Homo sapiens: one gene and its partner. The protein of the gene in region 1 interacts with the protein of each later gene in a biochemical or structural test. Each region holds a gene or a part of one and is shown on either strand. Other genes may lie near its edges.

Evidence for each region.
Region 2: the proteins of RIT1 (region 1) and LZTR1 form a complex in vitro, tested with the Homo sapiens proteins (one study listed by BioGRID).

What each region holds. Positions count from the first base shown.
Region 1 is NC_000001.11:155,901,350-155,908,349, reverse strand, and holds part of RIT1 (GTP-binding protein Rit1), read left to right. Parts: intron 1-3,545; coding exon 3,546-3,619; intron 3,620-3,847; coding exon 3,848-4,039; intron 4,040-7,000.
Region 2 is NC_000022.11:20,983,696-20,992,296, reverse strand, and holds part of LZTR1 (leucine-zipper-like transcriptional regulator 1), read right to left. Parts: intron 6,457-8,601; coding exon 6,400-6,456; intron 4,794-6,399; coding exon 4,714-4,793; intron 4,288-4,713; coding exon 4,179-4,287; intron 3,509-4,178; coding exon 3,425-3,508; intron 2,673-3,424; coding exon 2,615-2,672; intron 1,912-2,614; coding exon 1,772-1,911; intron 670-1,771; coding exon 468-669; intron 84-467; coding exon 1-83. UniProt on the Homo sapiens protein: Substrate-specific adapter of a BCR (BTB-CUL3-RBX1) E3 ubiquitin-protein ligase complex that mediates ubiquitination of Ras (K-Ras/KRAS, N-Ras/NRAS and H-Ras/HRAS).

The DNA of each region.
Region 1 (7,000 bases):
CTGAGTAGCTGGGACTACAGGGGCCCATCACCACGCCCGGCTAATTTTTTGTACCTTTAGTAGAGACAGGGTTTCACTGTGTTAGCCAGGATGGTCTCGATCTCCTGACCTCGTGATCTGTCTGCCTTGGCCTCCCAAAGTGCTGGGATTACAGGCGTGAGCCACCGTGCCCGGCCGCGTCTTTCCCTTTCTTTAAAGTAAAACTCAAATACTCGTCTCCTGTAAGAGTTATCTGTATTTTTTTTTTTGTTTTTTTTTTTTAGATGGAGTCTCACTGTCGCCCAGGCTAGAGTGCAGTGGCATGATCTCGGCTCACTGCAGGCTCCGCCCCCCCGGGGTTCATGCCATTCTCCTGCCTCAGGCTCCAGCGTAGCTGGGACTACAGGCACCCGCCACCTCGCCTGGCTAATTTTTTGTATTTTTAGTAGAGACGGGGTTTCACCGTGTTAGCCAGGATGGTCTCGATCTCCTGACCTTGTGATCCGTCCGCCTCGGCCTCCCAAAGTGCTGGGATTACAGGCGTGAGCCACCGCATCCGGCCAAGTTATCTGTTTTAATCAATTTTCCTCCAGTTAACTACTCTCCTGGCAATATTATCTGATTCAACAGCAAATACTTATGTCTTCTGAGTTTCTATTATGTGCCAAGCACTGCTTACCCTCAGGGTACAGTGGTGATCAAAAAGATGAGGTTTCTGTTCTTGAGTTTCTAATTTAGTGCATTTGATTTCAAGCTCTGGCTGTAAACTCAGAAAAACTTTACATTGTAACTGGTAGAGATATAAAAGCATACAAGGCCGGGTGCGGAGGCTTACGCCTGTAATCCTGAGCCTGCAATCCTGTAATCGAAGCACTTTAGGAGGCCAAGGCACCTGAGGTCAGGAGTTCAAGACCAGCCTGGCCAACATGGTAAAACCCCATCTCTACTGAAAATACAAAAATTAGCTGGGCGTGTTACTGCTGCATGCCTGTAATCCCAGCTACTCAGGAAGCTGAGGTGGGAGAATTCCTTGAACCCAGAAGGCAGAGGTTGCAGTGAGCCGAGATTGCACCACTGCACTCCGCCCTGAGCGACAGAGTGAGACTTTGCCTCAAAAAAAAAAAAAAAAAGCATATGAATGTGTGCATATGTATATATAAATTATATACACAAGCGCATGTGTATGTGTAGCTAAAATATTATGAAACTTTACCTCACTACATCTGGTGCACTCTGATATTTTCTTTTCTTTTCTTTTTTTTTGAGACAGGGTCTCACTCTGTTGCCCATGCTGGAGTGCAGTGTTGTGATCTTGGCTCACTGCAGCCTGGACCTCCTGGGTTCAGGTGATCCTCCCGCCTCACCCTACCAAATACCTGGGACTGCAGGCGTAGGCCACTAAGCCCAGCTAATATTTTTGGATTTTTAGTAGAGATGAGGTCTCGCTCTATTGCCCAGGCTGGTCTCAAACTCCTGAGCGCAAGTGATCCTCCCACCTGGACCTCCCAAAGCACTGAGATTACAGGCGTGAGAGCCACTGTACCTCACCCACTCTGGTATTTTCTTTCTTTTTTTTTCTTTTTTTCTTTTTTTTTTTTTTTTTTTTTTGAGACGGAGAATTTCACTCCTGTTGCCCAGGCTAGAGTCCAGTGGCACAATCTTGGCTCACTGCAACCTCCACCTCCCAGTTCAAGCGATTCTCCTGCCTCAGCCTCCCAAGTAGCTGGGATTACAGGCGCCTGTGACCACATCCAGATAATTTTTGTATTTTTAGTAGAGATGGGGTTTCACCACATTAGCCAGGCTGGTCTTGAACTCCTGACCTCAGGTGATCCACCCGCCTCAGCCTCCCAAAGTGCTGGGATTACAGGCATGAACCACTGTGCCTGGCCTGGTATTTTCTATTTTTATTTAGGTTTCTGCTTGTTTATTTTAATGCTGGTCCCGGCCCATTAAGTAGATTTCACAACTCACTAATCCTAATGAATAATTGAGAAGCATTGATTTAATGAGCTCTTCATCTTTGAGGAAGAGACAGAAGCAGGAATTCAAGAAAAAATGTTAAAAGGAAATACATTGAGATGTAAGCAGCAGTTGTTAAGTGAATGAAATATTGCGTGGCTTTTTTTTTCTTTTTAGTTTTCTATATTTTCCAAGGTTACTATAGTAATATGCATAAAGAAATTTGCTTTCAGAAAAGAGAAATTACGAAACTGTGGATTATTTAGAAAATAGTCAGTTAGACCGGGTGCAGTGGCTCACGCCTGTAATCCCAACACTTTGGGAGGCTGAGGCAGGTGGATCATTTGAGGTCAGGCGTTCAAGACCAGCCTGGCCAACATGGTGAAACCCTGTCTATACTAAAAATACAAAAATTAGCCGGGCAATAGTGGCATGTGCCTGTAATCCCAGCTACTCAGGAGGCTGAGGCAGGAGAATCCCTTGAGCCTGGGAGGCAGAAGTTGTGGTGAGCCGAGATCATGCCACTGCACTCCAGTCTGGGTGATAGAGTGAGAGCCTGTCTCAAAAAAAAAAAAAATAGTGAATTATATATTTTTTTCCTTTTTTGTAGTATTGAGGAGGAAGTATAACACATGGTTAATAATGCTTTTCAGTTCAGCAATCTTGGATTTTAATCCTCATTCTGTCACTAATTAACTAATTTAGAGAAGACATTAATATTTTCAAGTTGAATTTTCTTTAGCTGTAAAATGGAGGTAATAATGCCTACTTCATTGGATTATTGTGATTATTGAAGAATTAATATATATAAGTTACTTAGTATAATGTCTGGTAGATAATAACAATTTAATAAATGGTAAAGTTACTTTTCAGGCCTAATTTTTTTTTTCCCCTAAGAGATGGGGTCTCGGCTGAGTGCAGTGGCCCACACCTGTAATACCAGCACTTTGGGAGGCCAAGGCAGGAGGATTGTTTCAACCCAGGAGTTCGAGACTAGCCTGGACAACATTGCAAAATCCTATGTCTACCAAAAATACAAAAAAATTAGCCAGACATGGTGGTAGCACGCCTGTAGTTCCAGCTACTTGGGAGGCCAAGGTGGGAGAATCACTGGAGCCTGGGAAGTCAAGGCTACAGTGAACCGAAATTGCACCACTGCACTCCAGCCTGGGTGACAGTGAGACCCTGTCTCAAGAAAAAAAAAAAAAGATGAGCTGTTGCTGTGTTGCCCAGGCTGGTCTTGAACTCCTGGGCTCAAACAATACTCCTGTCTCAGTCTCCCAAGTAGCTGGGATTATAGGCAGTCACCACTGTGCCCAGATAGCCTAATTTTTTTAAGAAAGACATCTTCTCAGAATCCTTTTTTAGCTTAGAATTGTAGGTGAAATCTTCAGCTGTGAATAAACTACATCATCACCTATGTGGAAAAAAAAACTTCAGTTGAAGACTCAGTTTATGTATCTCAGTGGATTTAGCATGCTTCCTGAGAAAATGTGGGCATTTAATGAATTTGGATACAATGTACTACTCTGTAAGATGAGTTTTAAATAGGCATTTCTTCCGGCATTTATGACTTTATAGTACACCTTTCTTCCCTCCTGTAGAAGATGCTTATAAGATCAGGATCCGTATTGATGATGAGCCTGCCAATCTGGACATTTTGGATACAGCTGGACAGGTATTAAATCCCAGAATGTTATGAGTAAAGGCTTTTTTACTCTAGCAAAGGGGAGGGGAAGGCCTACACAGAGAAGATCAATAGTTTATCTCTCTTAATTTTTCATGCACTCTGACTCAGGATAGCAGGTAATCGACATGCGTTTTCTTTAATCTGAAAGAAATAGCTAATTGTGTGTGTAGTTGGGCTAGATTGCGTCAATACATAATGACCCTTGTTTCCCTCTAGGCAGAGTTTACAGCCATGCGGGACCAGTATATGAGGGCAGGAGAAGGGTTTATCATCTGTTACTCTATCACGGATCGTCGAAGTTTCCATGAAGTTCGTGAGTTTAAACAGCTTATTTATCGAGTCCGACGTACTGACGATACACCTGTGGTTCTTGTGGGAAACAAGTCAGACCTCAAACAGCTAAGACAGGTGAGGATAGAGAAGAAAATACTGTCTATAATCTTATACAATTAGTCATTTTTGTTTCTTGGCTTACAGATTCTTGGCTTGGCTTACAGATTTTTTTGCCTTAAAATAGAAAATCAGGCTGGGTGAGGTGGCTCACACCAGTACTTTGCGGGGCCAAGGTGGGCAGGTTGCTTAAGGTCAGGAGTTTGAGACCAGCCTGAGCAACATGGCGAAACCCCATCTCTACAAAAAATACAAAAAAACATAGCTGGGCATAGTGGTGCATGCACATGTGGTCCCAGCTAGTTGGGAGGCTGAGGTGGGAGGATCCCTTGACCTGGGGAGGTGGAGGTTGCAGTGAGGTTGGGGCTACAGCTTACTGCAGCCTCTACCTCCCCAGCTCAAGCAATCATCCCAGTTCAGCTTTGAGGGTAGCTGGGACCACAGGCGTGTGCCACCACTCCCAGCTAATTGTTTTTACTTTTTGTGGAGACAGGATCTCACTATGTTGCCCAGGCTGATCTTGAACACCTGGACTCAAGTGATCCTCCTGCCTTGGCCTCCCAAAGTGTTGGGATTACAAGTGTGAGCCACAGCGCCTGGCTGGAAGTAGTTTGATAGTAGTCAAATTCATAATGCTTCTCTGTTAATCTCCATTGGAAAAAATTTATAGGGATTTATATATAACATGTTCATTGCAAGACTATTTATGGTAGAAGAAAATGAGAAACAATCTAGCTGTCCAAAAGTAGAAATTATGGCATATCCATAATTAGATGTATCAATTATGGGCTCCTAATAGTTTTCAATATTTTAGTGTAAGCATATATCTCTTTCCCTCCCTTTGTGTTTCTTTCTTTTTTTTTTTTTTTTTTTTTTGAGACAGAGTCTCACTCTGTTGCCTTGGCTGGAGTGCAGTGGCACAATCTCGGCTCACTGCAACCTCCTCCTCCTGGGTTCAAGTGAGTCTCCTGCCTTAGCCTCCTGAGTAGCTGGGATTACAGGCGCATGCCACCACGCCCGGCTAATTTTTTTTTGAGACGGAGTCTTGTCTGTCGCCCAGGCTGGCGTGCAGTGGCACGATCTCTGCTCACTGCAAGCTCTGCCTCCCAGGTTCATGCCATTCTTCTGCCTCAGCCTCCCGAGTAGCTGGGACTACAGGTGTCCGCCACCATGCCTGGCTAATTTTTTGTATTTTTAGTGAGATGGGGTTTCACCGTGTTAGCCAGGATGGTCTCGATCTCCTGACCTCGTGATCAGCCTGCCTCGGCCTCCCAAAGTGCTGGGATTACAGGCATGAGCCACCGCGCCCGGCCTAATTTTTGTATTTTTAAGTAGAGACGGGGTTTCACCATGTTGGTCAGGCTGGTCTCAAACTCCTGACCTCATGATCTTCCCACCTCGGCCTCCCAAAGTGCTGGGATTACAGGCGTGAGCCACCGCGCCCAGCTTTCTTTTTTTTTAATTTTTATTTTAATTTTGTTGTTTTGAGACAGAGTCTCACTCTGTTGCCCAGGCTGGAGTGCAGTGGCGCAATCTAGGCTCACTGCAACCTCTCTGACTCCTGAGTTCAAGCGATTCTCCTGCCTCAGCCTCCTGAGTAGCTAGGATTACATGTGCCTGCCACCACATCCAGCTAATTTTTGTATTTTAGTAGAGACGGGGTTTCACCATGTTGGCCGGGCTGGTCTTGAAGTCCTGACATCAGGTGATCCACCTACCTTGGCCTCCCAAAGTGCTGGGATTATAGATGTGAGCCACCACACCCAGCGTTTTTTTGTTTTGTGTTGTTTTTTAGACAGAGTTTCACTCTTATCACCCAGGCTGGAGTGCAGTGGCATGATGTTGGCTCACTGCAACCTCTGCCTCCTGGGTTCAAGCAATTCTCCTGCCTCAGCCTCCCAAGTAGCTGGGATTACAGGCGCCTGCCACCATGCCCAGCTAATTTTTCTTTTCTTTTTTTTTTTTTTGATATAAAAGCATTTTTAAACTTTATTATTAATACTCAGGACATTAGGAATTTCCAGATTTTTTTCAGTAGCATTTGTAGAACCACTTTTGGTAACAAATACAGTAGTTAGGAATATGCATCCAGTTCAGAATGCATAATAATGTTTCTCCTGAATCCTTTCCGGCTAAAAACAGGGCTGGCACTGTGATGAGATATAGAACGAGAATCTACAAAAAACACTGTAACATGTTTGTTTTTTCCCAGAGGCTACATCCTCTTTTGCTGGAATACTTTATAAATACATATTAAAAAGTAAGGCAACAACTCCAAACAGTCCAAGCTGTTTGCTCAACTCTTTTCCCAATTAGATTTGCAATCCCGGTGATCAGTTTCATGGTTGTATTGTTTAGTGTTTCTTTCTTATTTTAGTAGAGATGGGGTTTCACCGTGTTGGCCATGCTGGTCTTGAACTCCTGACCTCAGGTGATCTGCCTGCCTGCTTCAGCCTCCCAAAGTGCTGGGATTACAGGCATGAGCCACCGCACCCAACTTTTTTTTTTCTTGAGACAGGGTCTTGCTCTGTCACTGAGGCTGGAGTGCAGTGGCGCAAACATGGCTTACCGCAGCCTTGACCTCCTGGGCTCAAGTGATCCTCTTACCTTAGCCTCCTGAGTAGCTGGGACCACAGGTGTATACCACCACATCCAACTAATTTTTTTTTCTTTTTTTGAGACAGAGTCTGGCTCTGTCACCCAGGCTGGAGTGTGACACCTGGAGTGCAGTGCCGCGATCTTGGCTCACTGTAACCTCCGCCTCCCAGGTTTAAGCGATTCTCCTGCCTCAGCCTCACGAGTAACTGGGATTACAGGTGCCCAACACCATGCCCAGCTAGTTTTTTTTAAGTGGAGACAGGGTTTTGCCATGTTGACCAGGTTGGTCTCGAACCCCAGACCTCAAGTGATCCACCTGCCTCAGCCTCCCAAAGTGTTGGGATTACAGGCGTGAGCCACCGCTCCTGGCCCCAGCTAAAT
Region 2 (8,601 bases), on another chromosome or scaffold:
TTGAAGCCAACCCGCTCCTCATAGGTCAGGGTGGGCACCTCCTCGGAAGCACAGGCTCGCTCGGGCACTTCAGCCCCACCAACCTGAAGAGGGGAGACACATGGGCATGAGACCAGTTGGCAAGGGCCAGGTAGGTGCCCAGAGACCCCCACCATCCTGGCCTTGAGAGTGGGTTCTGAAAGAAGGAAGAGCTGCATGGCCGTGGGCTTCCCAGGAAAGGTCTGCAGCACAGCAGCCCCATGCAGCCATGATGGGGTGTGAAGCGTTAACTACCTGCAGGCTGTGGGGTGAAGCTGGGGCTGGAGGCCGGGGCAGGTGTCCAGGGCTGAGGCCCAGGTGTCCTGGCCTTGCTCCTGGTAGCTGTCTGGAACCCCAGGGGGCCCCAAAGCTGTGAGGAGCTGGGTGGGAGCAGGGTAGGAGCTACTGGTGTCCAGCTGGCAGGTCAGGACACCCCTGGGCACCCTCACCTCGCTGTCGGAGCTGGGCTGGACGACCTCCCAGGTCTGGAAGTCCACGTCATAGCAGTGCAGCTCGTTGGGCAGCGTGTTGTCGGCCGCACCCCCAAACACATAGAGGTGGCGGTCAAAGGCCACCATGGTATGCCCGTAGCGCCGCTGCGGGGGTGGTGGGGAGCCCCGGAGCAGGTGTTCAGTTGGGATGCGTGTCCACCTGGGGGTACACAACAGTGAATCAATGCTGGGACAGGGGCTCCTGCTCACCCTCGGGGCCTCCCCACAGCAGGCCTTCACTGGGAGGTCCCCCTGCATCCCTTACGGTGACTAGCCCAGGGTCCAGAGGGAGGGCCTAGACACCTGCGCTGAGCACCTCTCACCCCATCCAGCACGGGCACCAGCCCTGCCTGGCTCCATGTGGCCCACCGCAGGGTCCTGCCAGAGCTCCCCCCTCTCCCCATGGAGCAGGCAGCAGTGATGGGCAGGAGGGTGGCATCTGACCCGCCCAGGCAGTCCTGCTCTCTGGGGAGTAAAGTTGTGCAGAGACCATTGCAGGTCACTGTGTTCACGCTGCCCAGTCAGAGCATCCCCACAGCTGAGTCCCCATCCTGGGAGCTGCCTGTACCCCACATCCTGATGCTGCCCCAGCACCTTCCACCTCCCAGGCTTCCCAGTACCTCCCAGCAAGTCCTCTCTTTTGCTAAGTTAGCTGAAGACTTCAGAACAGATCCTGGCCTGGCAGGGCTATGCCATCTGGCTCCATGCTGAGCCCCAGGCCCTTGACAATTTCCCTCATCCTGGGGCTCCCTGCCCTTCCTCCCACGCACCCGTGGCCTCCAGGGAAGCTCCCAAGTCCCTTCCCAAACCCCCTGTACCTGCAGCTCACACTCCTTGTGCCCTCTCCTGCAGCCCCATTGCAGGGATCAAGGGCTGGCCAGCAGCCAGGGGCAGCATGGGCCAGACCTCTCAGGACCTGCAGGCCCCTCTGGTCTTCTGCCATTATTTGAGATCTATGCAGGCCACGTCTGTTACTGGTGGCACTGACCAAGCTATTCACGAGGAAGGGGACGTCCTTCACGTTCAGAGGGAGGCCTAGCCAGGGGCCTCCTCGCCAGGCCTTATCTTGCTAAGCTGTAGCCATATCCTGGGGACCTGCCAGGGGCACCGCACATCCCTGCTCCGGGCTGTAACCTCCTGCTGTTTGCAGAGCTCACAAGGATGGTTACCATGGCCACCAGGTGCAAGAGGCGTTCTTCATATTCAGAAGGATTCGAGGGAACTGACCGTCCTCCCTCCACCCCACTGGCCAGAGTACTCACGTCTTGTCCTTGAATTCAAACTGGAAGAGGTTGTTGGTTATTTTGGCTCCGCTTTGCCCAGAGAATACAAACATCTTGTCCCGGCACACAGCCACGGGGAAGTTGCAGCAAGATGGGGGGATCTCGCCACTCTGGGCCACCTGCAGGGGGAGAGGACAGCTCAGCCCCGGCCTCACAGGGCCCGCTCACATTTCACCACACTCGAGACTGCTGAGATGGGACTGCTTTTATTCTTGAAACTTCCCCAGATGAGGATTCACAGATTCCTTTGTCTTGGAACAGCTCATAGCCCTGTCTCATCCACTTCACGGGGCCCAGTTGTGAACAGCTGGGGTTAAAATCGTCAGGGTTAAATCATCAGGGGCTAAACTCATGTTTTTCATGCCCAGAAGACTGAAAAACAATTTTTTTTAATGAATAAATAAATAAATTCCATGTTTCTAAAGGGGAAAGCAAGCCCAGGGGGAGCTCCAGGGAGCAGGACACTGGATAGCAGACGGCCCTCACTGCACTGAAATAAAGGGTGCGTTAAAGCAAAACCACATCCTCACACACGTGGCACTCTGCCCATCCAAAGCACCAAACCTCGAATCACTGTGCAGCCACAGTGAGGAACTGGTCGTGAAGGCCCGCAGGTCACCAGGGAGGAGAGCGAGGCTCAGGTCGAGGCTGGGCTTTGCAAGGGGAAGAAAGCAGCCTCGACCCCCAGCCTGGCTCCCCCTGCCTCCCACCTCCCTCCACCTGCACCCTGTCTCCCCATGCCCCTCACCTCCTCCACCTGCGCCCTGGCTCCCCGTGCCCCTCACCTCCTCTACCTGCGCCCTGGCTCCCCACGCCCCTCACCTCCTCCCAGCAGGTGAGCTCTCGGTCCTGGAGGCCAATTGTCCACATGTCATTCAACCTGTATTAGGACAGACCAGTGAGGACCCCTTGGGTCTGGTGGTCAGGGTGGGCCTAGTCCTGGCTGGAAGGGATGGCTGCAGGGAGGAGCCCCACCCCCACACAGGGTAGGAGACTTGTGCGGCCATGAGGCGGGAACTTCTGTGTGGGGTGGCAGCCACTGCCTCAAATCCCTGCTGTGCCAGGCCCCCTGCCCGGCCCAGACAGAACAAGTACTCTCATGCATGACATCAGGGCAGTGTGGCAGTGCCAGCTCCTCACTCAGTGTCCCTCCTGGGTGGGGAGAGGACACAGATATCCCAGATGCCACCATCACTGCATCGTTAGGAGTTTCTATGATGCTGAAGTTTTGGGAAACCAGCATATGCTACTTTTGTGATCAGAAAAAGAGAGCAAAGCCAACTTTCTAAAATAAGGAGGAAAAGGCCTTTGGCCTGGGCAAGAACCAGGGCTGGGCCTGAGCCTGGGCACCGCCCACCCGCCCACCAACTCAGCTCCGCAGGGCAACTCCTGGCTGAGGATCCTCATCCAAGCTACTCTGGTAGCCACGGGGCTCCACCCAGTGGCCCTCACCTCCATCTGTCCATCCTCCTCTTTCCCCATCCCCCTCCCAAGAAACCCCCAGACAGAGTGGCACTCAAAATCCACCAGGCACTCAAAATCCTCCCAGCCTAAGCCCTCAAATGCCAGGACGGCCTGCTCCGGGTCTCAGTGCTGTCGGAGGTGGGGTGCACAGGCCGGACCACCACCCACCTGGCGTTGCCGTCATAGCCAGCAAAGATCCACAGCTTGTCACTGTACACCGTGGCCCCATGGGCTGACCTAGCGACTGGCAACCTGGAGTGTGAGGGAAGAGGGGAGGGAGTGAGGCCGCCCAGCACAGACCTGAGCCACCCAGCCCCATGTGGTCAGTGCAGGGGCCACAGCCAGGCTGCATGGCTACATCCACCCGACACTGGGGCTTCAGGACCTCCACAAGGCACTAGGAATAAACAACAGCCCCAGAGGCCGACTAGTGGCTTGAAGAGGAATTCAGACAGCCACAGAGGCACAGAACCTTCTCCTAGGTGCCCCCAAAATATCAAAGGGGGTGCTCAAAAAGCGGGACCCCAGAAGCGCCATCAGCAGTACATTGGATCTTATTGAACATTTTTTTGTGACAAGGTCTTGTTCTGTCTCCCAGGCTGGAGTGCAGTGGGGCACACATGGTTCACTGCAGCCTTGAAGTCATGGGCTCAAGTGATCTTCCCACCTCGGCTTCCCAAAGTACTAGGACTACAGGCATGCGCCACCACGCCTGGTCCATTTGGGTCTCTTCTGAAAGGAGGGAGTCTAAGGGCTGGGAGCAGGCCATGCATAGCTGCACCGGGGGATATTCCACCAATCCCAAGCTCCCTGCTATTGCGTGCCCTCAGGGTCCTCATCTGGGAGGCAAAAGGGGGCAGATCCCAGGTCCAATGCCACCCAGGACCCAGCCTGTCCCAAATGTTTCTGCAAAGTTTCTCACCGTCCTTCAATTTTCCACTCCGTCCACTGGCCAGTTGCAAACTTGTATTCAAAGAGGTCGTTTTTATTCTTCAAGTTAGAATTGGAATAAATGTCCCCAGTGTAACCCCCTGAGTAAAGAGAGTGAGAAACTGTCAAACCCAAAGGGCAGTCTTGGAGATTTCAAACCCTGGAAGGTGGAGCAGAATCTGGCCCCCCTGAAAATGCATAAGCCAGGACTCCTTCCACAAGCCCCGGAACGACCTGCTGCCTGTCTGCCTCTGTGCTGGGCTCTGGGGACACAGAGATGAGCAGGACACTGTTCCCAGCCACAGCTCAGTAACACAGAAAGACACCCAACCCTGTGAGCTCAGGGCCGTTAGGGCAAGGGGTCCCAGATCCAGCGCAGAATTCCGAAGACTGGCAGACAAAGCCACGGGTGGAGAGAGAGCCCCTGCTGTACACAGCACGAGCACAAATGCCCCAGGCCTGCAGAAGGGCAGGGTGTCTGTGGGCCTCGGGGCGACACAGCCCCTGGGAGGCAAGAGGCTGCTTACCAAAGACAAACATGCTGCTCCCATAGACGACGGCCGAGTGGTGGTAACGGGGGGCCGGTGGGGTCCCAGTGGTAAAGGCCCTGGGGTGGGCACAGGGGTGGTGAGAGTCAGCGGGGGTCACCCATGAGGTCCACACCCCCACAGGGTGGCCCTGCATCCCTGTGCTGCCTTTCTTTTTTCTTTTTTTTTTTTTTTGAGACGGAGTCTCTCTCTGTCGTCCCGGCTGGAGTGCAGTGGCACGATCCCGGCTCAACCTCCACCTCCTGGGTTCAAGCGATTGTCCTGCCTCAGCCTCCTGAGTAGCTGGGATTACAGGCACCCACCATCATGCCCAGCTAATTTTTTGTATTTTTGTAGAGACGGGGTTTCACCATGTTGGCCAGGCTGGTCTTGAAGTTCTGACCTCAGGTGATCCGCCCACCTCAGCCTCCCAAAGTGCTGGGATTACAGGCGTGAGCCACCGCGCCCAGCTACGTTTCACTTTTGTATTTTGAAGGTGATACCTGTCTCATCATAGAAACTTAAAAAAAAAAAATCACCAATAAGGAAAAAACAAAATAGGCACTAAAGCTCATGCAAATTCCCATTACCAGAAAACCTCTGGCAACACCTTGAGGTCTTCCCTGCACACCTCTCCTACGCATACTTAGGCTTCCATGAAATTTTTTAAAATGGAATCAAGTGGCAGATATTTTGTAAATTGCTTATTCCACTCACAGAATGTGACCAGGTCCTCATGCTACTCCAGGACCATCCACACTCCTGCTCTCAGCAGCAGTGCAGCATCTTACAGCACGGGGTCCATCAATTTCATTTAATACCTATCTATCTAACCATCATCTATCTATCTACCTATCATCTATCAATCATCTAATCTATATAATCTATATATCCATCATCTATCCACCTATCATCTACCTATATAATCTATCCATCATCTATCTGTCATCTATCATCTATCTACCTATCATCTATCATCTATTGTCTGTCATCTATCTACCCATCATCTATCTAATCTACCTACCTATCATCTACCTATCATCTATCTATCGATCTGTCATCTATCATCTATCCACTATCTATCTATCTGTCATCTATCTGTCTAATCTACCTATCATCTATCTATCATCTCTCTTTGTCTTTCTATCATCTATCTATCTTTCTTTCTATCTATCTATCTATCTATCTATCTATCTATCTATCTATCATCTGTCTATCTATCTTCCTAGACAGGGTCTCACTTTGTTGCCCAGCTGGTCTTGAACTCCTAGCTTTTTTCTGAGTTTTATACTTAAGCAATTTTTGACAAATAATTGTGAAGCCTTCAGAATGATTTTTTAAATTAATTTGTAACTACTAGCCATCTTACAAAATCAAGTGTGAGAGAAAAGACATAGCAACTTCTGTACCCATACTAGCATCAGCCTCGAGGTAGAGGTGGACAGCCCAGAAGGGTGCCGCCCTGTGTGCCCAGCTTGGCAGCTGCAGGTGCGGGGTGGTTACTTGATCTCCTCAGCCTGACAGGGCGGCTCTGGATGTGGCATCCCTGAGGCCGTGGTTATCTCCTCCTGGAAGCTTCTTTCTAGCTTCCCATGATGAGAGAGACTCTGCTAGCAACTGGGACCCAGCACTGTGCCACTGTGTTCTAGGAGGAAAGGCAGGGCCCTGGAGCACGGGGCCACCCACCTGCACCAGGAGCAGTCTTTCACATCGAACCGCAGGAGGTCATTGAGCATGGTCTTCCTGAAAGGCAGCCGGAAGAGAGGGTGGCATTAGCCAGGTCTACTCTGCAGTGACCCCAGAGATGGGCACTGCATGTAGCCAGGGTAGAGTAGGGGGCTGTTGTGGGCTGGGTCACTAACACAGCCAGGCAACCAGCTGATGCCCAAGAACAAGAGTGGTGACCACAAAGGAGGCTCCCCAACTGATATGGGCACCAGGGCTGCCACACAGGCAGACACCAGCCTGCCTGGGGTCAGGACCAAAGCATGAATGTGGCCACCAGGAGCCCAACCAGCAGCTGACATGAAGGCATGAAATGGCCCAAAGGCCAGAGTCACCCTCACACCTCACCCTAGCCTCCAGAACCCCTATTCACACGTCCCAATCCCCTTCCTCTGCAGCTGTACCCTGCAATGCAAGTGCTTGCCCGTGCCTCAGGAGAGGCCCTTTGCTTCTCTCTGATCTTCCTGCCACTTCTTAAAAAAAAGAAATAGAGACAATGGGCTGGGCTCGGTGGCTCACGCCTGTAATCCCAGCACTTTGGGAAGCCTAGGCGGGCGGATCACTTGAGGTCAGGAGATTGAGACCAGCCTGGCCAACATGGTGAAACCCCATCTCTACTAAAAATACAAAAAAATTAGCCTGGCATGGTGGCAGGCGCCTGTAATCCCAGCTACTCGGGAGGCTGCGGCAGAATCGCTTGAACCCGGGAGGCAGAGGTTGCAGTGAGCCAAGATGGCGCCACTGAACACCAGCCTGGGTGACAGAGCAAGACTCCATCTCAAAAAAAAAAAAAAAAAAATAGAAACGAAGTCTTGCTTTCCTGCCCAGGCTCGTCTTGAATGCCTGGCCTCAAGTGATCTTCCCACCTCAGCCTCCCAAAGTGCTGGGATTACAGGTGTGAGCCACTGCACCTGGCCCCTGCCATTTCTTTGTTGCAAAAGCCATACAATCAAATAGAAAACAAATTCACTGGCCATTGCACCACCTAACACTACCAGCTGGCATATCACTACCCAGCCCTTGGGAAGAAGGGCAAACTGACAGGAGCCCAGTGCCCCGTCATGCCCAGCCTGTGCTGGGTGCCCCCTGAACGGTCTCACTTAGTCTGCACCAGTGGGTGCTCTCTCACCTCCATTTCACAGATGGCAACAAAGCCTAGTGGCTCAAAGGCTGTGTCTGAGGCCATGCAGCCAGGAAGCCAGGAGCCTAGAAGCTGGTGGTGATTGTGATACCGCCCCCCCCCCCTCCTTACTTGCCCCACGTGCCGCAGGAGGCCATCTTTCTTTGTACTCAGGCAGTCTTTATAAAGTTAAGACTAGTGTGAGACAAATTTGTATCCTATTTCTTTGTCATACTGCAGCAAAAATGTTTCTGCTTATTGCTACACAGTTGTCACACAAACTACCTGCTAAGGACACTCTTGAGGATGAAGGTCCCCCATTTCCCACTTGCTGCCTTGTACTGGACACTAAAGCCCTTTCTGGTTTGGAGGGTTCTCATTAAGGCTGCAGTAAATGCTTGTGGGTAGGCATCTCTTCTTCATTTCATTCCTTCATTTGACAAACATTTATGGAGTTTTCTAGATGCCAGGATACAATGGTAAAAGGAGCACAGGCCCTGCCTTGACTGAAGAGATGGATAATAACCAACATCTGTGTGCCTCAGGAACAAATGAAGATGGTAAGAGGTATGGAGGGGAAGCAATGGTCTCCAGTTGGTCCAGATGGCCAAGTAAGGCCTCAGTCACAAGAAACATCAGAGGAGGGGCAGGAAGGTGAGAGGAGAGAATGGGCAGTGCAAGGGCCTGAGCAGGGGGGCACTTGGTACAATCCAAACATAGCAAGGCAGCCCGTGCCGCCCCAGTGCAGTGAGGGACTGAGGGCAGAGGAGCAGCAGACTCTCATGAGGACTTGGGCTTTTACTCAGAGAGGCAGGGAGGCATTACAGGAGGATGAGCCAAGGAGGAGCATACTCTGACTTGCTTTTGTAAATGGGCCCCACCGGCTACTCCTGGGGAAAGAGAGTGGGAGGAAGACAGGCTTGAAGCCAGGGGACCATGCCCAAGGAGGCTCTTCTGCCCAGTATGCAGATCCTGGTGGGGTCCAGACTACCCCACCATCCTCAAGCCCGCCCCCCAAGGAGGCCTACAGGACCAAGGCTGCA